Linked DNA regions of Homo sapiens. The protein of the gene in region 3 interacts with the protein of the main gene of each other region in a pairwise test. Each region holds a gene or a part of one and is shown on either strand. Other genes may lie near its edges.

Evidence for each region.
Region 1: the proteins of ABHD4 (region 3) and COL4A5 interact in binary tests that used the Homo sapiens proteins (3 or more experiments, as listed by UniProt).
Region 2: the proteins of ABHD4 (region 3) and BNIP2 interact in binary tests that used the Homo sapiens proteins (3 or more experiments, as listed by UniProt).
Region 4: the proteins of ABHD4 (region 3) and REEP5 interact in binary tests that used the Homo sapiens proteins (3 or more experiments, as listed by UniProt).

What each region holds. Positions count from the first base shown.
Region 1 is NC_000023.11:108,442,329-108,450,103, reverse strand, and holds part of COL4A5 (collagen alpha-5(IV) chain isoform 2 precursor), read right to left. Parts: intron 1-7,775. UniProt on the Homo sapiens protein: Type IV collagen is the major structural component of glomerular basement membranes (GBM), forming a 'chicken-wire' meshwork together with laminins, proteoglycans and entactin/nidogen.
Region 2 is NC_000015.10:59,658,323-59,665,772, forward strand, and holds the end of BNIP2 (BCL2/adenovirus E1B 19 kDa protein-interacting protein 2), read right to left. Parts: intron 5,799-7,450; coding exon 5,747-5,798; 3' UTR 824-5,746; downstream 1-823.
Region 3 is NC_000014.9:22,600,899-22,608,673, forward strand, and holds part of ABHD4 ((Lyso)-N-acylphosphatidylethanolamine lipase), read left to right. Parts: intron 1-768; coding exon 769-857; intron 858-2,491; coding exon 2,492-2,864; intron 2,865-3,026; coding exon 3,027-3,181; intron 3,182-4,888; exon of another isoform or gene 4,889-4,968; intron 4,969-5,523; coding exon 5,524-5,635; intron 5,636-7,775. UniProt on the Homo sapiens protein: Lysophospholipase selective for N-acyl phosphatidylethanolamine (NAPE).
Region 4 is NC_000005.10:112,877,228-112,884,227, forward strand, and holds part of REEP5 (receptor expression-enhancing protein 5), read right to left. Parts: intron 1,609-7,000; coding exon 1,559-1,608; 3' UTR 1-1,558. UniProt on the Homo sapiens protein: Plays an essential role in heart function and development by regulating the organization and function of the sarcoplasmic reticulum in cardiomyocytes.

The DNA.
Region 1 (7,775 bases), on a different chromosome or scaffold from region 3:
AAAATTCAATTAATATAAATTAATGCTACATTGAGGACCCTCTGAGGTAAAACTGGCTTTCTCCCCCCTGAGAGTATGACGAATACAACTACTAAGAAAATGTGGTACACTGCACCAGTAATTTTACTCACCATCAGTGCAAATGTCAACATAGTGAGAAAAGTAAACATTCTTCGTATTTGCTATGATACATGTTTATGTCCCCTCCAAAAAAATTCATATGTTTTAAAATTATAATCTTCAAGGTGATGGCATTAGGAGGTGGGGCCTTTGGGAGATGATTATGTCACGGGGAGAAGCCCTCATGAATGAGATTAGTGCCCTTGTAAAAGACGCTCCAGAGAAAAAAACGCCTTTCCCCTTTCACCATGTGAGGTCACAGAGAGACCATAACATCTGTGAACCAGAAAGAGGGCCCTCACCAGACACTGAATCTTAGGTTTGATCTGCCTTGATCTTAGGCTTCTCAGCTTTCAGAACAATGAGATATAATTTGTTGTTTATATGCCACCCAGCCTGAGGTATTTTGTTATGGCAGCCCAAACAGACTAAGATAATATTACTGTTAAAATATTCCTCATGTTCTCTAATAGGATTTCAGGAACCGTAGGGGTCCACAGACCACAGTTTGAGAACTACTGACCTAAAAGATCACTAATGTCCCTCCAGCTCTAAAATGCCTATGAACAGTCAACAACTTTCATTTGTAGAACTATACAAAACATTCGTTTCCCTAGATAAGTAATATATCACATTTAACAAATACACCAGTTTCTTACAAATCTTTTGTATCAACTGATCCTGAGGACAAACTCATGAGGTTGTGAAATAGAAACTGTTTCTTCCTTCCCCCCAAAACATCATGAGTTTATTTACATATTTTCCACCCTCCAACTTTTCTAGGTAGCAATGTGTTTTGGCCAGACGCAGGGCAGGGAGAGGTGGTTGTGTGAGTGACTGGACTAACTCTACGTTTATGTCCGTATACCACTTGCCAATGTACTGGTGTAGGCATATACATATAACACGATTTCAACCAATGATAAATAAGAGGTGTTTTCAGGGTGGTGCTGTGGGACTCCTTAGAAAGTTTCCATTGCTAGTAAAAAGAGATACACATGAATAGTTCATACTCTCTTTCTAGTGGGCATTGCAGTGTCTGCATGTGATTCCTGGAACTGCAGCAGCCATCTTGAGAGTATGAGGGGCACTAATATTAGAGGGCAAGTTGATAGGCAGAGTATGGCAGTACAGAAAAATGGAACAAACTCTGGCCCTTACTAGTGTCATTATTTGGCTGAATTAATTAACTTTGGAGATAATCAACCTCCAAACTTCTTGTTATGTGAGCTAAAAATTGTTTTTATTGTTTAAGACAGATAGTGTTTTTTAGCACTTGCAAGAAAAACAACCTATCTAATATAAACAGACACCACCATGACTATCTTCCACATACAGAAACATTTTACTACATCAATTAAATTGTGAGAATATGGACAGAGAAGGACCAGTCCTCCTTTAGCAAGCTTTTGGAGGGCTTGTAAACACAGAATATACTAAATAATTCATCAGTCATGTCCCACTCCTAATACCACTGCCCCTCTCAAAGTTCCATATCTCTTTCAGTACTCAATTAATGTCATATACACTGTAAGAAATTTTGAAAGCAAACCAGCCAGTTCTCCTATATACAGGAAAAATATTATTTGATTGAATTATAGCATGATACAAATTCCTTAACAGAATTTCTTGAAGTCTTATTTTATTACTGTCAAAAACACAATTCCATTAACCAGAATAGAACTTGCTTGTAAATGGTACTTACATTCTCTACAAGTTAGTAAGCATCTGACATTTATAACAGATTCATTAAAATAAAAAAGTTAAAAATTAAATTTAGCAAAAGCCTGTTTCTTTTATAACATTTGCCTTTGACTGTCTTTAATTAATGAAAAGCAAGGGATTTAAGGTTCCCATTTCAACAGGGTAGCAAGTACCATCATAGACTGCCCTTTTGGTTAAAGGCCAGCAGAAGCTGCTAAAGGCACAAAGTGTGGGTGGACCTGGACAGACTATGGAGGTAAATAAGTTCAAGTTGCATAAAATGAGAATCTGGTTTGTTAAAATGAAAGAAGCCTATGTGTCACATATCACACTGAAGGTGTTTCTCTAAAATCCTCAAGAATTACTGCTATTTAAAAACAAATCTTTATAATAAAGATTTAGCTAAGTGTCTGGGTGGTTCATTTATAATGTTAATTAGAAAGAATACATTTTCAAAAATTACTTCTGTTCCGTAGCTGCTATCATCACAAGGGGATGAGATGATGGAATGATTACATTTGTAAAAGAAAATCATTAGAGACTAAGACCAAATCAGCCAACCAACTGGCAATCAATTGAGCATCAATTCCATAGTCACTGTAGTAGATAGGAAAGAAAAATTAAGTCTGTCTCACAGGCACTCTTATACACTACTGATAGGAGTATAATTGGTAAAACCATTCTGGAAAGTAATTTGGCAAGAGCAGATCCCTATCACTCAGGAGCTTAAAGTTCAGCTATTCAAATGCCACCTGGAAAAACCACAATGCATAACAGTTTGTGACTTTGCAGAGAAATAAATTTCAATTGCGCAAGCTATAGGGCTGGCAAACAGGCAATGATGTCATTTGGCTACTGAGGAAATGTGAGGAGAAGGTAAAGTGAGTATGTTACAAATTGGGAGTGGTACAAAATGGATGGGGGACCTCACATTCCGTATGTACTAACCAGTTTAATTTTCTAAAAAGAGGGAATTGAGGCTGTGATATTATCTCCCCAAAGTGGAAAAAAAAGATTAAGAATTAATGAAGGGAAGTTTCTGAGTATCACTAAGGGAGAGATGAAAGCTAGGGACAATACTAGGTAAAGACACAGCCATTTAAGTGTAAGCCTGAAAGACAGCTACAGTGCAGGGGCTGGTGAGAGGGGTGGGGAAAGTGGTCAGAAGGGGCTCTCATTTCAGATGCATATGCACAAAACTCTTCTGGGGGAGGGAGAATGTCAATGAATTTGAGTATGTTATACCACTGTTATAGCTGGGAAGAGATCAGTAGGAGAGGTATTTGTGGAGGGCAAGCTCCACCTTCTGCCCAGGGGAGAAAAGTAGGAGGATATATTGTGCACAAAATTAAAATTTAAGCCCTTAAGGATGAACGGCCTAGGCAGTTATGGTAAAGACTTATTAAAAGATGAGCCAATGGAGAGTCTTTCTTCAGAATCATCTTAAGTGACCAGTCACAGAAGGGTTTACAGAAAGGGCAATGAGAATTATTCAACTTTTCATCATGACTTTACTTTTCTCTATTATCTACCATGTATGAAATAGGGATTGAGGAGAATCTCATGAGCAGGTTCTAGAGCCTTGGTTTAAATCTTGGCCCAATCATGTATCAACTGCACGACCTTTGGCAAGTTATTTAACCAATGTGGGCTTCTGATTCCTTGTATATAAAAGTGGAAATAACATTAGCTACCTAACAGGATATAACATAGTAACCACTAAAAAAGTTACCATAATTTCTCTGTTGATATAGCCTTTTTAAATATCAGGGTCTACTGTATGTATCAAAGACTTGAAAAATACTTATAGCGTTTAACCCACTAATTCCCCATGAAGGCGGCTGTAGCAATAAAATAATAAAAATATGGAATAAGAAATGTTCATGGCAGCACTTCTTACGATGGCTAACAAATCTTGACATTTTAAAATATACTCTACAAAAGTGAACAGGTAAATAAATTGGAGTGTGTATAAATACAAGTTGTATGTAATCATTTTAAAATAACGTTTTAAAACTAAGAATGTTAACATGGGAAACTGCTTGATAAGTGATCAAACAGTAAGAAATAAAACTATATGTAGAATAAGCCCAACTTACTTTTTTATTTTAACCAACTTTTTTTTTAGTTATTAGCTAGTGTTTATTTAATCAGGTTTTTTAGTATTTTAAAAATTCAGTATCTTCATGAAATGAAAACTTTACCATAGCAATTGAAACATGAATTGTGCTTAGAGTTTCGTGATTCACATCCAAACCTTAACATATCATTTACAATTCAAAAATTGTACTCTTACAAGTCATTGTTCTATGCCAAATTTATTTTTAAAAACATATTATATATATAGGAAAGAAAATAGTAAAAACAACAATAATCAAAACACACACCATTATTCTGTGCTCAGCCAGCACAGTTCTGGCCTGCTGGTAGAACTGTGGACATATTTTTATTTTCTTTATGTTTTTCAAGTTTCCAACATTGAGCAGCTGTTACTTTTGTTACCATATAAAATCAACATATGAATTGGTTGAATGAACAAATATATAGTTATTGCTTCAAAAGGGACTTTAATCAAATAAAAAGAACAGATAAAATGTCATAAAACAAAATGCCTATAAGACCAAATACATGCAGATACGAAACTGGGAGAGGCTAAATATTACAAATGTTCAAAGAAAGGTACAATCAGTATTTGATACTATAATAAGGGAAAGTTTCACAGGACTATTTAGCTATTCTCACCAGTATGTAAACACCATGAAGGGAAGAACCTTGTCTTTATTTGGTTTTAGCCATAGTGTCTAGCACAAAATGATTTTGTAGGCAGTACACCTCCATGAATAGAAATAGAACAGCATAAATAGAATTTTTGAGTACTTAGAAGTTGCTGAATAAATATCTGCTGAATAAATGTAAACATTTGCTGGAATTGAGCAAAGACTTGAATCCACAAAATTCTAATCAAGATGGAGGGCCAAAATGTGTATGCAGTGCTCACGGGATTGTAGGAAAGCTTACCTAGGCTAGACTGGAGGGAGTATATTATAAACTGTAATGAAAAATAAGGTTGGATAAGGGAAAAGATCATGATAGGCCTTGAAAATCAGACAGGAGATTTGAGAGTTGATGTAGTAAGAAATGGTAAGTCAATAAATATAATGACAATAATGAAATCTAAAATTGATTTAACATTTACTATGGTGTCAAATACTATATGTTTTACATAACTTTTCTCATTTCATCCTAAAAAAAAAAATATGTGAGATAGGTGCTACGGCCTTCCTTTTGCCAATGAGGAAATTAAGTCTCAAAGATTACTATTTTGCTGAAAGTTACACATCTACCAGTCAGATTCCATGTCTGACTTCAGAGGCCAACCTCTTGAAGACTCTGTATAAGACCTCTACAAAGTCCACAAAACGTGTGAAGAGAAATACCAGAAGAGAATGAGATCATGTATATTTATTCTAGGGTCTTGGACTGGAATCAGATGTATCATTATGAATCCATGATTTTGACATATATAAAGAGGGACTTCAAGAAATCGATATAGAAACAGGTATGTGTGCATATATACATATATTTCCTAGTTCTGCCTGCTGAGAGGGCCTAGAGGCAATGACACCTCAGTAGCAATAAGCATGCCAAGCACCCAGATCTTGGCTTCTACATACCATTCTCCAATAAAAAGAATCAGAGCTCCTTGGAGAAAAGATTCTGATTCCAGAGTTGGGGCAAGGAAATTAAAAAATGAGTCTGGAGGCCAGGTGCGGTGGCTCACGCCTGTAATCCCAGCACTTTGGGAGGCCAAGGCGGGTGGATCACGAGGTCAGGAGTTCGAGACCATCCTGGCTAACATGGTGAAACCCCGTCTCTACTAAAAATGCAAAAAATTAGCCCGGCATGGTGGCTGGCACCTGTAGTCCCAGCTACTTGGGAGGCTGAGGCAGGAGAATGGTGTGAACCCGGGAGGCAGAGCTTGCAGTGAGCCGAGATCATCGCGCCACTGCACTCTAGCCTGGGTGACAGAGCAAGACTCCATCTCAAAAAAAAAAAGAAAAAAAAAAGAGTCTGGAACATCTGTGGTGCCAGAAAGTAAGAGGGTGCTTAAAAAATGATGGAGACATGTTGAAAGGACACAGGAGCCAATTTGAAGGGGCTCCTGTTGGCCAAATCTGGGTTTCAGCAAAAACAAAAAGTAGTAAGAGCATAATTCATTATAACCTATAGAATAAAACAAATATTCATTAAGTCCATACTGCTATAAACAGCTGAATAAATATATACATTAAGCGTAAAGAGAAAGTTTTTTATTACAGTATAATTCAATCAATTAATAAATGTAAAAATGTTGAAAATTGAAATCAATGTCTGGCAAATGTCACAACAATAATTTATTCAAGCCAGAATCATCAACATATGCTAAAATTAGTGGGCAAATATATGATGAGAAACAGGATATTTACATTGTCTCACAATATTGCCCTGCATAGTCTCACTTTGTAATTACAAAAGAAAAAATAGTGACTTTATAGTGAATAAACCTAGCAGACACCATCTTAACCAAGCTTTCAGGGATGTAAAGAGTCTCATGTCTTACATGTATAGACATCAAAAGGTAAATAAAAACACATGAAAAAATACAAACTCTTACACTGCCATGGGACAGATACATATATAGATATATGCATAAGACTAAAGATATATATCTATATAGTTTGTGAATAAAATTGGATATGATAGGTAGGCAAATTAGTACAAAAAAAGAACAAAACTAAATTAAGCATGTTAAGTAAAGTGTGTTACCATACACACATACCCGGTTGTTTCACAATAGACATGCTCCTGAAAAGTTTGGTGGACTTAAAATTAATGCAGTAACTGAGTAATTAAATAATCATAAGGCAAATCTTCCTTCAAAACAAATCATCTGTCACAAATTATAGTAGTTATATAAGTTGAAATGTTTACATATTGTGATTACATAAAATCATAAAACCTTCAACAGCATTTGCTTTTAGATTGCTTTTAAATAATCTCACTCTAGATACAGATACAGAGGTCAAACTCTGATCTTTTTATTCTAGGCCCAAAGCTATTTCCATTACACCATGCTGCTTCTCCTAACATCAGCAGGAAGACATGTAACCCCCATTATCATTTCCATTTCACCTCCTGTGTCCAAAAAAAGTGGCAGAGATCCAAATACTTTACACACCAGTAAATCTCTATAGACCACATACAAAGTAGGCAGTATAGGACAGTCATTAAGGGCAAAGATTCTAGAGTCAAACTGCCTGGATTCAAATTTTCCAGCTTCACAAGTTACTGCCTACATGACTGGATTTCTGGGAATGTATTCAACGTCTGTAATTTGTAGTTTTCTCATCTGTAAAGTGAGGATAATAACGGTATATGTCTCATAAGTCTGTTCTGAAGATTAAATATGATAATATGTATTATCATATTAGCACAGTGCCTGGCACATAGTAAACACTCATTATGTTATCTACATTAATAATGATGACAATGATGACAAGTTTTTCCTATGGAGCAATATACTTCATAGAGGATGAAGTGTTTCATGGCTACAAACAACACTCCTACCCTTGATAAATTCGTGCCGCTGGTCACAAGGAAGATAGTACGTTTAAAGTAGACAAAAATATCCAATCTACTGCACAGAAAACAACTTACTAACTATGTAAAATAAAACTAACATAATTTTACATACTACCCACATCCACAAATCTAAGTGCATATCCCACTGACAGTGAATCAGTACAGGTATAATTACCTTCACATAAAAATGTTATTTCCATCACTAAAAATTATATTTCCAACTTAAAACTGTCTTCTCTTATTACTAACCTTTTGGCATAGAGGTTACTTTATTCCACCTAATGAATGCTCTACCTAAAAAAAAGATCTTCCACATATTTGTGATGTAC
Region 2 (7,450 bases), on a different chromosome or scaffold from region 3:
TCACTATAAATTTCAAGTTTGCAAAATCACAAATTGTTTTAGGTGTCAGGGTGCATGGTACACTAACTGGCTTAAACCCAGCAGTCATGTGTAGAGCAGTTTATCCTACAAAATAGCTGAATAGTGATTAAAGAGTATGTGCAAAACAACAACAACAAAACCACAAAAAACACCAAGTGGTATCAGCTGGAACCTCTGAGCAGGTCTATGAACTAAACAAGTTCTTCTTATTTAAGCCATGTTTTCGGCCAGGGGCGGTGGCTCATGCCTGTAATCCCAGCACTTTGGGAGGCCGAGGTGAGCGAATCACCTGAGGTCAGGAATTCGAGACCAGCCTCAACGTGGAGAAACCCCGTCTCTACTAAAATACAAAAAAAATTTCGCTGGGCGTGTTGGTGCATGCCTGTAATCCCAGCTACTCGGGAGGCGGAGGCAGGAGAATTGCTTGAACCTGGGAGGCGGAGGTTGCGGTGAGCCAAGATGGCGCCATTGCACTCCAGCCTGGGCAACAAGAGCGAAACTGTCTCAAAAAAAAAAAAAAAAAAAAAAAGCCATGTTTTCATTTTAAGCCACTCATGGTTTCATCCTTGGATTCCCCATTAATTAAAAAAAAATCTCAACTATGAAACACAAAGTTTCATTATTGTTTTGATGTTAAAATAAAGCAGGCTGAACTCTCTAATCCCCAAAGAATAGAAGCACTTAGACTATAGAAAGGGAAACAAGTGTAAAGGTCTGAAATTATTTAAGAGGTTTATAGGATAATTCAAAGCAAAAATTTAGTAGCATAATGAAAGAAAAATGTGATAAAAAGACAAAGACGAACGTTCCAATTAATTTATTTAAATTCATTAATGTTGCAAAAAATATGATGTGCAACAAATCAAGACACAAGTTATATTCCTAACAGGTCAAAGAAAATATTACATCTCCTTAGTAAATCATGACCAACTCTGGTATTTCTTACAGGGACCACATTAATATCTTGCACACACAGACATCAGAACTGAATTTCTGACAGTACTCGGCTGGGCAACATCATCTTAAGAGTAGGAAAATATCACAGTACATTAATTTTGTCTAAATGACAGCAATGAACCTGTGGTAACAAAAGTATTTTTGGAATAGATATCAAAGTGTGTTAATGTCTTAACAAACTCTGAATTGTGTTCTGTGTGAATAGTGCTCCAAGGGCTGTGCAAGTCAGTGGCCCTGAACATCATCAATATTTACTAGCTAGGTTTACACAAATAAACAAGCAACTGTTAAACGGACATTAAACTTTACAAAGTCCACATACAAAAAGTGCAGTGTAGAAGCTGATGAATGTTATTTTCCAAGTTCCTCCTTAGCCAAACTGCATAAAAATTTCAAAATGCAAATATTTTAACTTCTTGTTAAACATGATTCTAAGACATCCTACAAGCCTAGTATCATTAATTTGAAAGCACGAAATGATTTTCATTTGGTGCTTACGTGCTTTATGTGAATTTTTCATAGCATTTTACTTAGTTCTCAAAACATAAATAGGTCTATTATAAATAGTTGCAACATACTGTTATATTCAAATTTTAGTGTCACTCCTTACTGTTAAACATGCCAGACTACTTTATTTTCAATTATCCTTTAGAACTTCAAAGGAAAGTTACATAACTGGGTCTCACCATTGATCTGATTCTAAGTTCATTCAGAATTTCAAGAAGGGCAGAGGGGGATGCTTGCCAGGTAATTCTTTTGTATTAGCTTAGAACATTTGAGTAGATAATACCCCACTTCCCTCACCAGTTGGCCTTCCCATTCAAGTCTAAGTTCTTGACTCTTTCTCGCAGCAACTCAAACTACACAATTCCTATGACCTATAACAAGACCAGACCTATTTTAACAGCAAAATAGGTCTAACTTGTGAGTACATACATTAATGCCTCTTTTTACTCTATCCCTCTCAGATTTGTGGTCCATTTCTCAAATGTCCATATAGGATTGGAGAAAAAACAGGCATGAAAACAAAATAGAATGGTGTAGCAATCTCTATTTTCAGCCTATCTCCTACTCCCATTTGCTTGAGCAAGTTTAACACTTCTCCACATATAACATGGAAAAAGGAAGGATGAACCTACCGTAACATCTCTACCAATCTCATCAGGAAACTGGCCTGTTCTATCTGATATGTCCTAATGCTAATTTATCACTTGAAGAAATATAAAAAGCCACTTCTGTATAAAACACATGTCCAAATTCCCTGAGCATTCACATAAACAGCCAAATAGAAATGTTATATAGTCTTTTTAAAAGGCCTCTATCAAAAAGCAGATCTCTTACCTTTTTAAATTCTGGAATTACGGTTAAAAAAATTCTAGCTACAGATATATGCTTGCCAATCAGCATATTTCAGTATTCAGTGCACTTACTAGTGATGTCCATTTTGGAAGACTAAATCAATGTTCAGCAACAGTGAAATATGAAAAAACAAAAAAACCAACCAAAAACCCTCAATCCTAAACTTTTAAGTGCTGTAACTGCTAACCTTCTCTGCTCGAACTTGCTTCTGTATGAAGAGACAAAGAAAGAGAAAATATGAATTCTTATCATGGGTATGTATTATCAACTTTTCCCCCTTCAATCCACAGTCTTTATTCACATACCTTGCGTATAGCCTGCAGGTTTTCCTGCTGCATACAAGAAATGTTACCATCAGCAGTCACATATGGTACTTCCCTTAAAAGGACACACATGGCCGGGCGTGGTGGCTCAAGCCTGTAATCCAAGCATTTGGGAGGCTGAGACAGGCAGATCATGAGGTCAGGAGTTCGAGACCAGCCTAGCATGGCGAAACCCCGTCTCTACTAAAAATACAAAAATTAGCCGGGCATTGTGGCGTGTGCCTGTAATCCCAGCTACTCAGGAGGCTGAGGCAGGAGAAATGCTTGAACCCGGGAGGCAGAGGTTGCAGTGAGCCAGGATTGCGCCACTGCACTCCAGAATGGGTGACAGAGTGAGTCTCTGTCTCCAAAAAAAAAAAAAAAAAAAGAGAGGGCACACATACAGTGGCATCTTAGGTAACAACTATGTCTTTATCTCTTTATAAAGGTTTGCTTTCTCTTACTTCCTACTTTTATCACTTTCCAATGCCTCTGCTAGACCCTACTTAGAATCATATTTCTTCATATCTCCCTCTGAGTTAAAGATTGTTAAGCTTAAATTGTGGGGTGAATAGAACGTCTTCCCTTGGTGCTTGCTTAGGAGTATGATCAAGCAGAACACAGAATCAAATTATTTCACATGAAAAACTTCTGACTAAAAAAGGGGCACTTAGAGCCTAGTGACAGAAGCATCAAATTAAGCCAGTTAAATTAGATCCATGATCCCAACAGAAAGATAAAAGTACAATCACATATACTTTCACCTTGGTCAGTAATGGGAAATTAAAATGGAATAATATGGGAAATGTTAACTTAGCTATAGATTAGAAACAACAGACTTAATAAATGCTCTTCCTCTAACCTACTATTATGATCTTAAATCTTATAAAACATTTATTGTGGGTACATCTCTATACCAGATTCCATTAAGGTGCAGGTTAAAGCAGGTATCCCTTTAGTTTACTGATTCACAGCACCTCATTTTCATTATATCCCAGGTGTTATCACTGTTGTCTCTGAATTTTAATGTTTAACAGAATAGTCTTCTACTTTTAAAAAAAATTCAGAAAAACATCACTTTTGCAACATGTATCTACAGTTAGGAGCAATGACTGCAAAATCAAAAATCAAAATAATGCAAAAAAGAGTTGAAGTTATTCTTCATATTTTTTAAACTGAAGAACCAAGTACTTAATGTGGTAGAAAACCACCTATTAAAAACCTCAGCCCATTTTGAGCAAGATAAAGATGTACAGATGAAAGACTACGTTAAATCGTCTACAAATATAGAATCTAATGACAAATTCAATATAATTGTTTATACATAATCCTTATATGGTAAATTCAGAAGGAATGCCTAACTTGTTATTGTTAGTTTGCTTCTTCAACAACAAGTGTTCCTAAAATGTGAGCAAGCAATAATCGTTTTGGCTCAATTCACTGTAATGACATTAGTTCAGGATCTGCCAAGAGCTGCTGGATCTGAGTTAAGTCAGGAGGCTGCTGAGGAATGTTTCATCCTGGGAATCCTCCAGCATCTCTCTCCTATAACTGGTTTTAAGTTAGCATGCCAAGTTTAGGACTGAGGAGGACAAAAAATATAGGAAAGTTCCCTTTTGTAACAGAAGGTTTGTAAGTACATGAGAATGGTCACAGCCACATGTGTGTTCAATCTAGGATAGACTAAATCTTGAAAGGTTAGCTCACATCCACTTCAATTTTGCTACTCTAGGCCACTGTTTTGTAAAATACCTTACAGGAAGGGTTGAAGAGTAGCCATGACCTTCAAATTTGGAAGGTATTATGCTTACCAGCTGTGTATGAGCCTTTCAAGTATATGACACAATATCAGATCAATCTGTTGTTTTAGAAATAATTTTGTCGGTAATTAAACTTTTTGTTTGGAGGCACAAACACAATTTATTTCAATGTAAAGGTACTACCAAATGAAACAGTTTAAATGCTTGTAACAAACGTGTTATCCAAAACAGCACAATATGATGATGCTAAGACTTACAAAATTAACCTAATTTACAGTATTGTCAAACATGATTTCATACAAACTTGAATAAACACCACATCTAACTAGGTCAAACAACTACCGAGTTCAAATAATTGATATGGAAGTATTTTGGTAAAGTGCCCATAGTGAGAGTTTAAAAAGCAGCCCCTGTTTTCTATAGAAAAAGTTGTGACAGTGAATAACTCATCACATTCTCTGCAATACTACTCAGCACTCATATACACTCAGGGGAGCAATACCCTGGACACATAGCTTATTTCACATTAGTGAACAAACTCAAGATTTTTATAAAGTTCTGACTTTGGGCCAGAAGATAAAATGTCCCATATATACATATATACAAACCCTAATTCCTACCCTCTTAAATCCTCTAGTTCTAAGAATGGCTTTTTGACTTGTCTTTAAGTTTAGAAAGGAAAAAGTGTGCAATGCGCTTGCATCTGTACTTGCTGAATTATGAAACAAATATGTTAAATGAGAAAAAAACCTTGGGATGGTACTAATACACTTCGATTATATACATGATCTTTGGGTATTCATGACAATCAGTTTAACCATCTGTTGCCTTATGAAAAACTTAATTTCCTAAGTTACCCAGGAAATGTATTTAACCATTTACAAAAACAAAAATTCTAATATGCACTTTAGAAAATCGTGGTCTTATATACCTGCATATTTCTTCCATAAGACAGGTACACATTAAAAAATATTGCTCAATGACATAAAAATATATATTATTTCTTTCCTTTGCCATTTATGCATATAAATATTTCACCGAAGAAGATGCATCATTCAATAAACAAATGCAAAAACTACTTTATATAAAGTGTGGTTCTCTATTTAGCAATATAAAATATAAAACGATAATAATACAGTTAGCTATTAAAGAGCTAAATTCAAGAAATTTGCAAACCAGTACAGCAGTGAACAGTCCCTTGTATAATACAAAAGTCCATTATGAAAAAGTCAAGTCTATTTTGTAACAGGTTACATAAAAATATGGGCCAATAAATGCATTATGAATGCAGAAACAGCACTGCTCCATCAGCACATTCTTCAGTCTTGTTTGGACTAGATGCCAAACTTACTGTTCATTTTTCGGTTCATCTTGTTTTCCATTAAGTTCTTGATCAACTCTGTTTAATGAAGAATATATAAAATAAGAAACCAGCAACTGAACAATTTTCTTTCTAAAAATAATGACTATTTTAGCATAGAATATTACTCTGTTAAAGACAAAGCTTTGCAAAGAAGCAGACATAGTAAAAACAGTTACCAAACATCATTTCCCCAACCAGAAAAGAGAATTTTTAAAGGCAGGAGGACACTGGCAAGAAATGTGACCGTTGTTTCTTTAAAGATTATAAAATACTTTACATACAAATGCATATAAACTTTTTTTTTTTCTTATTTTTGAGACGGAGTCTTGCTCTGTCACCCAGGCTGGAGTGCAGTGGCACAATCTCAGCTCGCTGCAATCTCCGCCTCCTGGGTTCACACCATTGTCCTGCCTCAGCCTCCCGAGTTGCTGGGACTACAGGCGCCCGCCACCATGCCCGGCTAATTTTTCGTATTTTTAGTAGAGGTGGGGTTTCACCATGTTAGCCAGGATGGTCTCGATCTCCTGACCTCGTGATCTGCCTGCCTCAGCCTCCCAAAGTGCTGGGATTACAGGCGTGAGCCACCGTGCCCAGCCATAAACTTTCTTAAAAGTTCAAATTACATGGCATATTAAAATCTTGACCTGTAACTTGGCTGTGGTAGGGATCCAGGTGGTACGAAAATGGCAGGAAAAACAACTCCCTCAAAAATGATTCTGTTAACTAAAATATGAAAATGCCATGAAGGCCACCAATTATCAATCAATATTTTAAAATTCAGTGATAAAAAATGCATCCTTATAGAACCCATAATTATTCTCCAAAACTTATTGGTACACAGTTTGTGAATGCCTTAAATTTGTTTTGACAGTAAGAAGCCTTAAGAATTTAACATTCAAGGCCGGATGCCGTGGCTCACGCCTGTAATCCCAGCACTTTGGGAGGCCTAGGCGGGTGGATCACGAGGTCAGGAGTTCGAGACCAGCCTGGCCAACACAGTGAAACCCCATCTCTACTAAAAATACAAAAATTAGCCAGGTGTGGTGGTACGCGTCTGTAGTCCCAGCTACTTGGGAGGCTGAGGTAGGAGAACCGCTTGAACCCAGGAGGCAGAGCTTGCAGTGAGCTGAGACCATGCCATTGCACTCCAGACTGGGTGACAGAGTGAGACTCCGTCTTAAAAAAATAAATAAAATAAAAAAAAAGAATTTAACATTCAAAAATATCTAATATAAATTAATTATTGGCTAGACACAGTGGCTTACACCTATGATCCCAGCACTTTGGAAGGCCGAGGCGGGCGGACTGCTTGACCAGGAGTTTGAGACCAGCCTGGGCAACATGGCAAAACTCCGTCTCTACAAAAAATACAAAAATTAGCCAGGTGTGGTAGTGTGCACTTGTAGTCCCAGCTACTCAGAAGGCTGAGGTGGAAGGATTGCTTGAGCCCTGGAGACGGAGGCGACAGTGAACCGAGACTGCACCACTGCACTCCAGCCTGGGTGACAGAGCAAGACCCTGTCTCAAAAAAACAAAACAAAAACCCATCAAAAAGCTTATTTATTTAGTGGTGGGTTGGACATCAGTCATATCAAAATTTACGCATGTGGGCATTAGAAGGATTACATAATTACCACATAATAATTACAGACAACCCTTCAAAGCTAACAGTCTATTACTATTACATT
Region 3 (7,775 bases):
AACCTCTACCTTGCAATGACTTAAGGTCCCTGGGTATGAAGGAGAAAACGGGATGAGTTATCTGTGTTACCGCATGTCATTAGAGGTGAGGACATAGGTGAGCTTTCTACTCATTTTACAATCTAGAAAACAAGACCAGAGGGAACCTGTGTCCTGTCAGTGAACCATAACAGAACTTGAATCCAGGTCTCTCACCTCCTCCTCCCTGCCTACCCCATCTCCATGGGTTGGACTGATTGATTACCTGAGAGATCAGTTGGGCACAACACAGTATTCCACACTTCTAGGGGCTTGGAAGAGGGCATACATAAACACCAACCAGTGCCCTGCCAGTAGGGCAGATGGCATGGGAATTTGTCCTACTGTTAAGGAACAGCTAGTACTGGGGACAGCAAAGGATAACTGAAACATTAGTTAAAAGATGCCTCTCCCTTTAATCTCCTTGAACATAAATTATGATAATCAGTAACAAGGAGAAATTAGAAAGCTGAGATAATAAATGTGACAGAGCTTTGTAAACTCTAAAGTATTATATACAGGATGTTCTGAATATCTATTGAAACAAGGGGCATGTTGTTAATACCCATTTACCAAAAAGAAACAATCTATCAGGTAGCTAGGGAACTGCTGCCTGCCATGGGGGGCAGGTCTCTCAAGGCTAGGAAACACCCTGCTTCCTGAGAACTCTTTTGTAACTCTCAGCAAGGCTAAGAGCATCAATGTTTCTTTCCAATGTTGCCAATGAGTGTCTCTGTCTCCTCCTCCCAGGTCTCAAGGCTGGCTGAGTAGCTGGCTGCCCACGTGGCGCCCCACTTCCATGTCTCAGCTGAAGAATGTGGAAGCCAGGATCCTCCAGTGTAAGTAGAATGGACAGCTTGTCCCACCTCCCTCATGGAGCCCAAGAAGGATTCAGGATCTTCCCAGAGCCTGCTACATTGAGCCCACTGATTCCTAATTAACAGTGTGTATGGGGTGGGAGGAAAGGATGTCAGTTGTGTGAGGGAAGAGGTGCATACAGACGGCACCATATCTGATAATAGTGCTTCCTCACCATCTCCCTAGCCATGTGGATAGTTCCTGCCACTTCCTGCAACTTCACCTCAAACCCTATGCCAGTGCCGGCTAACACACACAAACACGTACATTCTCCCCTTCCTCCTTCCTTCTCCCCCATTTCTCTCTTCCTCCCCTCCTCTCTTCTCACCACACAAGTACTTCTTAGATTTACCACCTGCAGATCCTTGGCCAGCAATCTTGCATTCTCTGATGTTACTATTCCTGTGTTCTACCTGGTTTTGGCCCCCCACCTATCTGGTTACCACAGTAGTTTGTGGTTTGCAGACCAGCTGTCATCGGCACTGTTACATTGCAGCAGGGCATCCCACTAGCGGCAGCAGCCACTCGCTCAAACAAGCCCCTTAAGCCACTTCTTCCCATATTTCCCTTATGATCTTCACCACACCCCTACTGCCCCAGCCATAGCTACCCTTTCTCTTCTGGGCCCGAGTAAGTGCAGACAAACAGCAGCCAGAGCTCTCAGGCCTCTGTCCAGGATCCAGGCTGCTTCACCCAGGCAGCTCTTCCCGGGAGACTGCTGTCACACCAGCAGAACAAGCACTGCCCCACCTCAGTCTCTCACCCGAGGCTCAGTCCACACCCATCACTCCCTCCAACTGGCTGGACCACAGTTCTGTCCATCCATCAAGCCCCAAGCACACACAGGTTCAAGAGCAATAGATGCAAGAGCTCTGTGGGGTTGGTGGTGTCACTACCACCTGGGGCTAAAGGGAGCTGGGCACGCTGTTTCAAGGGATAAGACGGTCCCGCTTATTATGTACAGACTACATGGTCTGTAAATGTGATTGGAGTTGAATTCTTTAGAGTGTGTAGTGTTAAAGAAAAAGTGATTCTGACAGATTAAATCGGTAAAGATCATTCAAAACTACTGCAATAGGGGAGAGAGATCAGGCTCAACTCTTGAATACATTAAGGACTAGTGGGGATTTATAACCAAGCAGCATGGTGAGGGGGGTCAGTGGATAGAAAATTGCTGAGGAGATATCAAAGATAAAGGGAGATATCAAAGATAAAGGGAGTTCTTTTCAAACCAGTTTAACAGGATCATTGCTGAAGGAAGGTCAAAGGTGAGGGATGAGGAACTTGATCAAATATGAAGGAATTCTTACTAACTGATGTATGACTTACTCATCCTGACTTTGCAGGATTCTTGCTAAGACTGAGCTAGACATTTGGAAGACAGGCCAGGGGCCAAGGTCAAAGCCTAGTCAAGAAGAGGGCTCAGAAGGGCTTGCCTAAAGTTTGGTTAAGGAGAGAGTTGTTTTCAGTGGTCAGAGGGTTGTGAGAGGAAGGAGCTGAGGGAAGTTGGGGAGGGTTCGGGAATGGAGAGAATGTGAAGAGTGGTAGTCCAGGCAAAATGATGATGCCGTCAGGAAACACTTATTGACTTACCATGGGATTCTTTCCTCCCCAGGTCTCCAGAATAAGTTCCTGGCCAGATATGTATCCCTCCCAAACCAGAATAAGATCTGGACGGTGACTGTGAGCCCCGAGCAAAACGACCGCACCCCCTTGGTGATGGTGCATGGTTTTGGGGGCGGCGTGGGTCTCTGGATCCTCAACATGGACTCACTGAGTGCCCGCCGCACACTGCACACCTTCGATCTGCTTGGCTTCGGGCGAAGCTCAAGGCCAGCATTCCCAAGGGACCCGGAGGGGGCTGAGGATGAGTTTGTGACATCGATAGAGACATGGCGGGAGACCATGGGGATCCCCAGCATGATCCTCCTGGGGCACAGTTTGGGAGGATTCCTGGCCACTTCTTACTCAATCAAGTACCCTGATAGGTAATAAGGAGATGGCTCCATCCCTCGTGACCTAATTCCTGGCCTTACTGGGAACTTTCCAGTATTCATTTCCAAACTTCTCTCATTCCCAGGCGATTTAAGGGGCTATGGCAACTACCAGAGAATATAATGTGTCTTCTCCTCTTTCCGCCTTTAACATAGAGTTAAACACCTCATCCTGGTGGACCCATGGGGCTTTCCCCTCCGACCAACTAACCCCAGTGAGATCCGTGCACCCCCAGCCTGGGTCAAAGCCGTGGCATCTGTCCTAGGACGTTCCAATCCATTGGCTGTTCTTCGAGTAGCTGGGCCCTGGGGTGAGTAGCCTGTAGTATCTCCTTAAAGGAAGGCTATAACGTTCTAGAAGGCCCACAGTGTCTTTCCCACTTATTCCTAAAAAGTGGAAATTGGCCTAGCCTTGTTATTTAAAGCTGTTAATCTGAACCAGATCACTTTGTTCAAGGTTTGAGAAGGTTTTTTGTTTTTTTGTTTTGTTTTGTTTTTTTGAGACAAAGTCTCGCTCTGTCACCCAGGCTGGAGTGCAGTGGTGCGATCTCGGCTCACTGCAAGCTCCGCCTCCCAGGTTCATGCCATTCTCCTGCCTCAGCCTCCCAAGTAACTGGGACTACAGGCACCTGCCACCATGCCCGGCTAATTTTTTGTGTTTTTAGTAGAGACGGGGTTTCATCGTGTTAACCAGGCTGGTCTCGATCTGACCTCGTGATCCGCCTGCCTCGGCCTCCCGAAGTGCTGGGATTACAGGCGTGAGCCACCGCGCCTGGCCTGTTTTTTGTTTTTTGTATTTTTTCTCTTCATCGGCATGGGAAAAGCTTTTCCTATGCCAGGAACAGGTGGAGCAGAATAGCTACCAGAGTCTCACTCTATCTCCCAGGCTGATGTGCAGTGGTGTGATCTCAGCTCACTGCAACCTCCGCCTCCTGGGTTCAAGCCATTCCCCTGCCTGAGCCTCCTGAGTAGCTGGGACTGCAGGTGTACCCCACCACACCTGGCTAATTTTTGTGTTTTCAGTAGAGACGGGGTTTCACCATGTTGGCTAGGCTGGTCTTGAACTCCTAGCCTCTAGTGATCCATCCGCATCAGCCTCCCAAAGTGCTGGGATTACAGGCATGAGCCACCACACCCAATCTGTGTGAAATTTTATGAAAACCTGCTGGTGATTCATGCCCAGTAACCACTGGATCCCATCCCTGTGGTTCACCCAACACCTGCAGCAGGGAGAGGTCAGAACCAAAGCCTCCAACATAACCCACAGTGGCAGGCAAGCCCCTCTGAACCATGCACTTGTCCAGGCAAGCACCACATCTTCACCTGCTCTGTGTCACCTAGCACTTGGTAGCTGTCAGCAAATTCTGTGGGTAAAAGGGAGAAAAGGAGGTGGAGGACCATGGGGAGCTAGCCATAATGAATAGTATCAATATCTCCAGCCTTCTGACCTCACACTGCCAGCACCCTTCTCCGCTGGGGAGCTTTTTACTCTGATGAAGTGCAAAGCAGAAAAGTGCAATCTTTTCCAATGGAAAAGATTGGTGATGCCTGTCTTGTACTGATGATTGTGCTTACAGAGTAATATTCAATAGCCAATTATTATGAGTTAATTGCTGATGGCTAAGTAAGAGTTATCTCTCTAGGTCCTTCAAGAAAAACAGAATGATTCCAGATAAAGAAAAAAAGCATTTGATTAGAAGATAGGAGTTTAGGAGTTCTGAGAGAGAGGAAGGATACCAAGACACGGGTGCCAAAGGACAGTAAGTGGGCAGAGGCTCCCAGCACCGTGGTCTCCAACAGAGTCTATAGTCCTTTGCCAAAAAGAAGGTCTGCTCGAGCTACTCTCCCCTATTCTCACCTCTGGCCAGGCTCATGCAGGAGCATCAGAGCTATCATAGTTGGGGAAGTTGGCCAGCAGCCATGAGGGACTATGCAGGAGGGAGGGCCAGGCCCATGCAGATCCTCATGGCACCCCCAACCCAGCCCCTTCTTACCTCCCTCTTGCTTCTCATAAACAGAGAGAAGACCAGAGAGAAAGAGAGAGATCAGGGATCAGAAGTTGACCAGTAGACCTCATTTTTACAGTCTGTTGTTGCATGTATGTATACCATAATGAGGTGAAACGAACAGATTGTTGTAAAACAGTGCCCTGAGTCTGAGACACGATTGTGTTTAGTTCACCTCTCCACATATTCTAATACAGGCCTGAAAATGAGAGCGCTGTCGGGAGGTGGTCTAGTTCCATCCGCTACCATCAGAAGATTAAAAGGCCATAAGGGTGTCTGGGAGAAGGAGAACATAGCTCAGGCTATAAGAGAAGAGCATCTCAGCCATGGATTCTGATGGGGAGGGCTTGTGATTCTTGCAGGGAAAGATCTCGGGGCTTCATTGAGCTGAAAACAACCTGGCTCCTCAGTGTTGTTAGATTGTCTCTAAATTCTCTGGTAATGAGCTGACTTTGTGATTTGAAGTCACCTGGACCTTCCCAGTAGATTCCTGCACTCTTTCTGCCGCTGTAGTGTTAAATGAATAAAGCAAACAAACCCTTAGGAGAAATAAGGTTTAGTTAAAGTTCTCAAAACATACACAGGCAGGAGTCTTCCCTGCCCCACCTCCCAAATTGGCCTGTCTGTGTTTTTCTATCCCCTCCCAGGGCCTGGTCTGGTGCAGCGATTCCGGCCGGACTTCAAACGCAAGTTTGCAGACTTCTTTGAAGATGATACCATATCAGAGTATATTTACCACTGCAACGCACAGAATCCCAGGTGAGGGCCGCTCCCCAGGCCAGCTTGGGGCAGACAGTTGTTAGGAGATAAAACTCTTAGCTGCTGGAGTTCTGGGCTTTATTTCTTCTTCAACAAAGCTCTGACTCAGTTAGGTAAACACAGGCACTAGCAAGCCTGATCATTTCCAGAGAGTTCCCCAGGGACAGACACAAAGGAATACAGAAGATAATAGATTAATTAAACATGCTGCCCATCTCTAGAGGAAGGCCCTCCCTGTTCCCTACAGGTATGCAATTGGCCTGATGAACAAGAGTCTGGAAAATATTAATATTTTAAAAGATTTTTTTAACTGAAAAATTGATACAAACATGGTATTTTTTTTCTTTTTTTAGGTCAAAAATAATTAGCAAAAACATGATATTTTTCAAAAGGAAAGGAAGTCTTCTCCTGTCCCGGGCCTGTAGTCCCTACATTTCCTTATTATTTCCAGTCTAACATAGCACATGTACCATTTCTTCAGAGGGCCTCCATGTACATATTCCTTTGTACACACATGTGACTGTATCTGTTGAACACATTACTACCAATAGAATTTCTCAATGAAAGAGCATGCATTTTAAAATTTAATTATGTGCATTTGAAATGCCTTATCATTGAGACAGAAATTTTTTTGCATCTTTGGGAGATTTGGGGGTGTCTCGAGAACTTTGAAAAGTTCCTATCTGGGGCTGCTTATTTACACAGCAGGCCCCACAAGCCTACCTACCTGCAGTTTGGGCACCGTGGATGGCAGGGCAGTCAGGGAGGTAATCCTCTTATGTGGAAGTGCCCTGTGACTGGCTGATACCACGAGGCCATGTTGGTGACACCCCGAGCTGCTGGGAGGTATCTCAGCAAAGGCAAGCTTACTGCCCTACTCCTTTCTAGGGCTGTCCAAGTCACTTGTTGGGAGCCCAAAGCCATGAGAAAGGCAGAGATTTGCATTCCAGCAATACTGTCTGAACATTAACCTCAAACCCCAACAGCTGTTGGGCAGTGTGTGAGCTGTCTGTCCAGCATTCCACATGAGCTCAGCTAATTGAAGAACCCTGATCAAACAGTAGTATAGAAACTCCCAGCTCAGCAGTCAAATCAGGTTCCCCTGTCTTCCTGCCGTTGGCCCTTCTCTCAGCCCCCATGGGCTCAGTGCCTGTCTCATACCCACCTGAGGCCCCACAGGCCCAGCCCTAGCCCTTTCCCCAGAACTTTCCCCATCCCAGACCTAGTTCTGTACAATGTCCTCCCAACCTAAGCCACAGAGTATATAAGTTTATAATTCATTCACATCCCAGAGGAAGCAAAGGTGACATCAGTGACAACCAGCTCCCTCACCCCCAAACACCGTCACTCAATTTTGTAACTCCCTGAGTTTTTTGACTTTGTAACCCTGACAAGCTCATGGTAACTCTTATCATTTCCTTGGAAAACATGAAATTTGACCAACATGTTTGAGGGTATCTACTTCATCTCACCTAAACTTAGGGGCTTTGTATATATTTTTATTTTCCTAATGATGTCCTAGTGAAGTAGGTATAATACTCTACATTTATAGATGAGGAAACTAAAGTATATTCTGGTTACATGACTTGCTAAGAAAACACAGCTGAGGATTTGAATTCATTTGACTCCAAATTCCATGCTTTTTCTGCCGTGCTGCAGTATCTTAAGGAAAAATTTATTTCTGATGGCCTGGGCAGAACTCAGGTTCCCTTTCATCTGTACATGTAAAAGAGAATGGAGATCTGATGGTACTAAACAGGCCAAGCCTAGGAGGCAGCAGTGTCCCCAACCTGCCCTATCTCTAGCAGAAGCTGCAGACCAGCCCCAGAAAGCTGGCTCTGCCCCAGCCTTGTGGACACCTCATGATACGGCCTCAATTCATTCTACCTGAGCAAATGACCGGGGAGTGAAATAGATTACATTGGCATTTGTTGTTTCTTGCTTAACAGAAACTGCTGCTCCCCCAGCCCTTGGAAGACTGATTTTTAATTCCAGAGTCTTCTCAGGAAGCCCTTTTTACTACTATAGTACTCACTTTTAAGCGTTCACCTCAGATGAACTTCTGACCATGTCTCTAGACCCCCAACAGGCTAAATCCCCAGTCTGTGTTTTCATAGCACTCGACCACCTTTTCATCCTT
Region 4 (7,000 bases), on a different chromosome or scaffold from region 3:
TTTAATATTTTTTACATCATGAGACATTGTTATGATCTTACCTGATTGTTATCTCAAGGTGAGCTAATCATCTTTATTTGCCTTAAAAAATACTGTACTGGCTGGATATTTAATCTTGTTAGTTTAGTTATACACTTGTTTTAGTCGAGTTTAATTCAAAAGGACTCTTAACAGTATGGTGTAAAACTCAGATTTTCTAGTCCAGACAAATTGCTCTCTATAACGATTTGGCAGATCAATGGAGACATCCGTTTTAACTTTACTGTTCTGTACTTACTATGTAGTCATGTGCAGCTTATCAACACAAAGAATACGGATGAGGGCATTTAAATGGACTACAAGTGACTCTGACTTGTAAACTAGGGAAGCCTCTTGTGTTTGACCTTAAAGGCCAGAGAAAAACTGAAGATAGATTGACTTAACTATTGCCAAGCAGATTATGGGTTACTTTATACTTCCTTTCATTCTCCCAGAATTGCTCTTAGAGCTAGGTGTCGTCATTAGCATGTTGTTGCTAATGATACAAACAAGAACATACATGTAATCAGAGGTGGACAAATCTTCAGAAGTTCCTTAAACTGGTTTAAAAAAGAAGATTGGGAAAGAAGACTAAATCAACATGTTTCTCCGCTTTGAAGATAAAACCAGAAATGGTTTCCATTGTAGCATCTTGACAATAGACAAATATGTAAAGTTTATAGCAGATAAGACAGTATTACTAGTTTTTCAGGGAATTGAGAGTTACAGGTTACTCTGTGTGTGTGTGTGTGTGTGTGTGTGTGTGTGTGTGTGTGTAAATTTCCCGATTTATCACTAGAGTGAGTAACTAACTAACTAACTGCTTTATAAAGCTATCCTGGTATTCATATGCCATATACTACGGAAACAACCAGGCCAATCTCCATTCGATTTCATTTCTCACTTTGTTCACTTGCATATTAATCACGTATTTCCTAAAGTATTATTTAGTAGACCACACCAGCACAATGGTTCCTCCAGCTTTTGGCAGGTGGTCTTACTGTACAGAAGTTATAAATGACACATACAACCTTCCCCTGCTCCCTCCCCATGAGCATGATGCATGTTGTAGTCAGACAGTAACATTTCCATATGTACATGTGCACAAATACATTAAAAACATTTCAGAATTATATAAAATTGTACATTACAGGAAGTAGAACCATAAAGATTATCCTAAATGTAACTACAGAGAAAATGCGTGCAGGGAGAGCCCAGTAAAGTACACAGCCTGTGGGGTATATAATTTTATTTTAAGTTTATATTTCCTGCAGGATAGCAACATACATCTTTTCCTACCCAGAGGCAAAATACATTTTCCAAAAACGTGGACACTGCCCACTGCATTAAGTTTAAAGTGCTCCCTATATATATAGACAGTAAAAGTAAGCAAAGAAACTTACAACACATTCCAATCTTTAATATCTCAAAAATGTTTCCAAGGCAACATTATTAAAATAATTATACCACAGTCCCTAATATAACATCAAGCTCCAGTAGGAAGGTACAGAGAGGGCAGGAAGTTTCCATCCAGTCTGGTTTAGGTGCTCTTCTTTTCTTCACCCAGTAAATTCACGGTAGCTTTCTTCGCTGTTTGTTTGTTAGGAGGGAAAGAAAAATATATCAAAGCTCTTTCTTTGGAATGCAAGCTTGCAAGCTTTGTGCCTAATGTAGCTACTAGATAACAAAACTTGGATGACTCATGTTCAGGTGCGATCATGTTGGGGTTTGTGGTCTGGGCTAAGAGGGTTTCCAGGAAATGGAGAAGGTACCTCTTAGAGCACAAATCCTAAATACTTGAGCAAAATACTTGAAGGTCATCTAGCCTAGCCCCTTGTTGTGACAGTGTCACCGAAACTGTCTGCCCTCTATTCTCCTTTAAGCATTGAAAGAAGCAGAGATTCCTTAAGAGTAGTGTTCAAATTCTATTTGTATCTGTGTGCTTGCCTGTAAGATTTCACTTATCAATATATTATCAATCTGATGACAACTAGGTCATCATATTTATCCCATGGCGACAAATCAGAGAAGTCCTCATTCCCAGCACTAGAAATACAGTCATCCCTTGATATATGTGTTTGGGGGGGGGGGCTGGGGGGGCGGTGGGGGAGAGGAGATTAGTTCCAGGAACCCTACAGATACCAAAATCTGTGAGTGCTCAAGCCCTTAAATAGAATGGCATACATAGTATTTCCATATAACCTATGTGCTTTCATATACTTTATTTATTTACTTATTTATTTTTTGAGACGGAGTCTCGCTCTGTCACCCAGCCTGGAGTGCAGTGGCGCGATCTCGGCTCACTACAGGCTCTGCCTCCCGGGTTCATGCCATTCTCCTGCCTCAGCCTCCCGAGTAGCTGGGACTACATGCACTCACCACCACGCCCAGCTAATTTTTTTTTGTATTTTTAGTAGAGATGGGGTTTCACTGTGTTAGCCAGGATGGTCTCAATTTCCTGACCTCGTGATCTGCCCGCCTTGGCCTCCCAAAGTGCTGGGATTACAGACGTAAGCCACCATGCCCGGCCTCTTCCATATACTTTAAATTCGGCCAGGCATAATGACTCATGCCTGTAATCGCAGCACTTTGGGAGGCTGAGGTGGGAAGATCGCTTGAAGCCAGGAATTTGAGACCAGCCTGGCCAATATGAATGGTGAGACCCCCACCCCCCACCTCTATTTTAAAAAAATTTTAAAAGCCCATCTCTAGTTAAAGTACCTAATGCAACATGAATGCTATATAAATTGTTGTTATACTAAATTGTTTTTAAAATCTGTATTTATACTCTTATTGTGCCACCATTCTCTCCTATGATGAGAAGAGTTTGCTCTAAGTCTTTGAGTTGGTGACAAGACACTACATTCATCAAGAAAACATTCTGTCCAGGTGTGGTGGCTCATGTCTATAATCCCAGAGCTTTGAGAGGCTGAGGTAGGAGTATTCCTTGAAGCCAGGAGTTTGAGATCACCCTGGCCAAAACACAGTGAGAGCCCATCTCTATAGAAAAAAAAGAAAAATATATTTTCTTACTTCTGCAGGAGACCAAGCCTTCCACTTTCTAATTACCAAGTGGCAGGGAATGTGCTATGAGAACCAGTACAGTGTGTAAGATGGAGGGGAAAGGGGTTGTCTAGAAGCCTCCAGGGCCCACTGTGAGATTTTACAATCTGCAGCTGTTCTTGATGGAGCCAGAGCCTTAGTGATGAGAGCCAAGGAGTCCCTTCTTGTCCACCAGCTGCCTGATAGTTGCTCTCCCTTTGCTCAGTTAAAATTACTGAACCAAGTTCACAGCAAAGGAGAAAATGTAGTCCTTCCCTTAACTAACCCTTTGTAGAAATTCCTAGTTAATCCAAAAGCTTTGAGAAAAGTCTAAAATGTGGCAGCATGTAAATTCCTCCTAACTTATTTTAATTCTCTTGCCCCTATTTAGGAATGTGTCATAACAAAGTAAGATTGGATTTTAAGTATTGATATCTAAGAGAACCAAGAGGCTAAGAAATGTGGGTGAAGTAGACAGAAATGACATCACCACAGGTTGCTGATTAGGCTAAGGGAAGGGAGAAGAAAAGAAAGCTCTTAAAAATAAGCTGGTAATCCTGGCTGGGCATGGTGGCTCATGCCTGTAATCCCAGCATTTTGAGAGGCCGAGGTGGGTGGATCACTTGAGGCCAGGAGTTTGAAACCAGCCTGGCCAACATGGCATAACGGTGTCTCTACTAAAAATACAAGTATCAGCTGGGCGTGGTGGCCCACACCTGTAATCACAGCTACTTGGGAGGCTGAGGCAGCAGAATCCCTTGAACCTGGAAGGTGGAGGCTGCAGTGAGCTGAGATCATGCTACTGCACTCCAGCCTGGGCAACAGAGTGAGACTCTGTTTCAAAAAAAAAAAAAAAAAAAAAAAGCTGGCAATCCTAAAGTGGGAGGAGGTTAAGGCTACAAGTTAAAAAATACCTAAAACATATTCAAGTAGACTGGATTTGTATGCCCAAAAATAGGAGTCCAGAGAAGAGAGGTCTGTGAGGGAGAAATGGGGAACATACCACTTCTGGGGCATCAGTGCTGCTGGAGAACTGTCTTGGGATTTTACTTCCCCATGGTCAGGCAACCTCACAACTCCCATGTCTAACTACCACAGAGCTCTAAAACACAAAAACCTTTCTCCAATTTCTAAAATCTGAGTCCCTCTGGAACTCAAGACCCATCACTGGCAAAATCTATATCCTCATCCATTCCTCCGAATGTTTCCTTTACCTTCTTGCTCTTAGAGAAAGCTGGCTGTGCCCTGAGGACACTGCTTTCTCAAGTGGTGGCTGTTTCTTTCCTCTCATGACCCTAGTACAAATGGATCTGGTAGGTGTTGTTTTTGTTCTTCATTGCCACTTTCAGAATCTCATGTCATCAGATTCTATCACTGAGTAGCCTTCCCTTTCCCTGTCATCCCTGACTCTTGGGCTACTTTGCCTTAGTTCTTGAAGATTTTAGCTCCTAACTTAATGTTCCTTTCTAACACTACTCCTATTATTTATTTATTTAGAGACAGGGTCTCACTCTGTCACCCAGGCTGGAATGCAGTGATGCCATCTCAGCTCACTGCAGCCTCAACCTCCAGGCTCAGGTGATCCTCCCATCTCAGCCTCCTGAGTAGCTGGGACTACTGGTACGCATCACCACATCTGGCTAATTTTTGTGTTTTTTTTTTTTTGTAGAGACTGGGTTTCACCATGTTACTCAGGCTGGTCTCAAACACCTGAGCTCAAGCAATCCACCCACCTTGACCTCTGGAAGTGCTGTGATTACAGGTGTGAGCACTGCACCTGACCTACTACTCCTATTTTAATTATTGATGATTTTAATATCCATGTAGACATATGTGATGATCTTCTAATATCCTGACCTCTTAGTTCCTCCCCTCCAATAACCCTTATATTCCACCCTACATATGGCACTGACTCCCAGGATCCCTGTTAGTACCAATACTGCAGTCCCTCCATAATCTTGTATCAAGCATCCCACTCAGCCACCATCACCTTTTATCTTTGTAGTGCACTCCCCACCCTGCTTTTTTGCTCATTGTAGATGATGATGGAGTATTCCCGCTATTATCCTGATTCAGAGTTCTTCCACCACCACTTCCCACCTTACTCAGGTTAAATTCCATTGTCAAGCATTAACCACTCCACAGTCCCACCCTCACTTCATAGTTCTTGCTGGAAATCACAACCTTGACACAACTCTCCACCTACTCTGTAGCTATACCCATGTAGCTGAGTATGGCTGGAGAAAAACATAAACAAGAACTGGTTTCACTATAAATTCATGAACGCAAATCTCAAGCATGCCTTTAACACTGCCTGACAGTCCATTTACTCTCCAACTGTCCTAGAGGGGCCAGCACACTGCAGCCAAACTCGCTTATGTAGTGTCCATGGCTGTTTTCACACTACAATGGCAGAGAAGAGTAGCTGCAACAGAGACATGATAGCCCACGAAATTTAAAACATTTGTTATCTGGCCCTTTACAGAAAAAGATGAGCAGTCCCTCTCCTTCGCAACTATTTCATACCTTCTCTTTCCATTGTCTCCTTCCCCATCCTCTCTCAATTGGCCTTCCTACTTTACTGAGAAATATGAAACAATTAGAAAGTCACTTCTGTAGGCTCCCATAGTCACATGTGCTCACAGCATACCATAAAACCTGATTTCCCTGCTGTTACCATAAACTTCCAGCTCTTCGACCAATCCCTCTACTGTATACTGGATCCTTCACTGGTCAAGGACAGAGCTCCAACAATTCACCCTCTCACTCCTATCATCATTTTTTGCTCTGTTGAATTATTCCCATTAATTTTCAAACAGGCTTTGTTTCTCCTACCTTAAGAAAAAAACTTTTAAAATTTCAGGACCATAATTCCTTCTTCCAGTTATAGCCCCATTCTTCTGCTCTCCTTTGCAGGAAATTTCTCAAAAGAAAGATCTATATTCTCTCATCCCTTTTCTCTCATTCTCTCAAATCCATTGCAATCAGGAGTTTGATATCACTCCACAAAATCTGTGTTATCAAAATCACTAGTACCTTCCTCATTGCTAAATCTGCTCAGTTCTCAGTCCTTATCTTACTTGACCTGTTGACAGCATGTAACATGACAGATCACTTCTCCTCTCTGAAAGAAAAACTTTCTGTTCTTGGCCCCAGGGATACCACACGCTCATGGTTTTCTTGCTACCTCAATTGGCCACTCCTTATCAGTCTGCTTTGCTAGTTGCTTCTCATCTCTCCAGTCTCTAAACCTTAGACTCCCCAGCGTTCAGTCTTTGGACCTCCTGTTTCCTAACTACACTACCTTCGTGATCTCATCTAGTCTCATGCTTAATATGTATAAGCTTGTGGCCCCCAAATTTATATCTCCAGTCCAGACCTGTTTCTTGAACTCTTGACACCTGTATCCAACTAGCTATTTGACTAATCCTTGTAGGTATCTAACAAACAGACACCTCAAACAAATGTCCAGGACTAAATTCCATATCCTCCCACCCACCACAACCTCCCACCCCAACAAAACCTGTTCTACCCAGTCTTCTCCAGCTCAGTGGCAATTTTATCCTTCCATCTGTTCAGGCTAAAAAGCTCGTCCTTGTCCTTAACCCCTCTGACCCATGCCCAATCCATAAGCCAATCCATAAGCAAATCCCATTACTTCTACCTTTGAAATATATCAAGAATCTGATACTTCTTACCCCCTACTGCTACACAAGGAACCAAGCCACCATCATCACCTCCAGCCAGATCACTGCAAGAACCTTTTAACTGTTCTCCCAACTTCCTGCCTTACCCCTTCAGTCTGTTCCTAATACAGTGGCCACAGGCATCTTATTAAAACACAGGACAGATCATTTTGCTTCTGTGGTTAAAAGTCCCCAGTACCTCCACATCTCACATAGAGTAGAAGCCAAACCTTTACAATGGCCTATAAGGCATT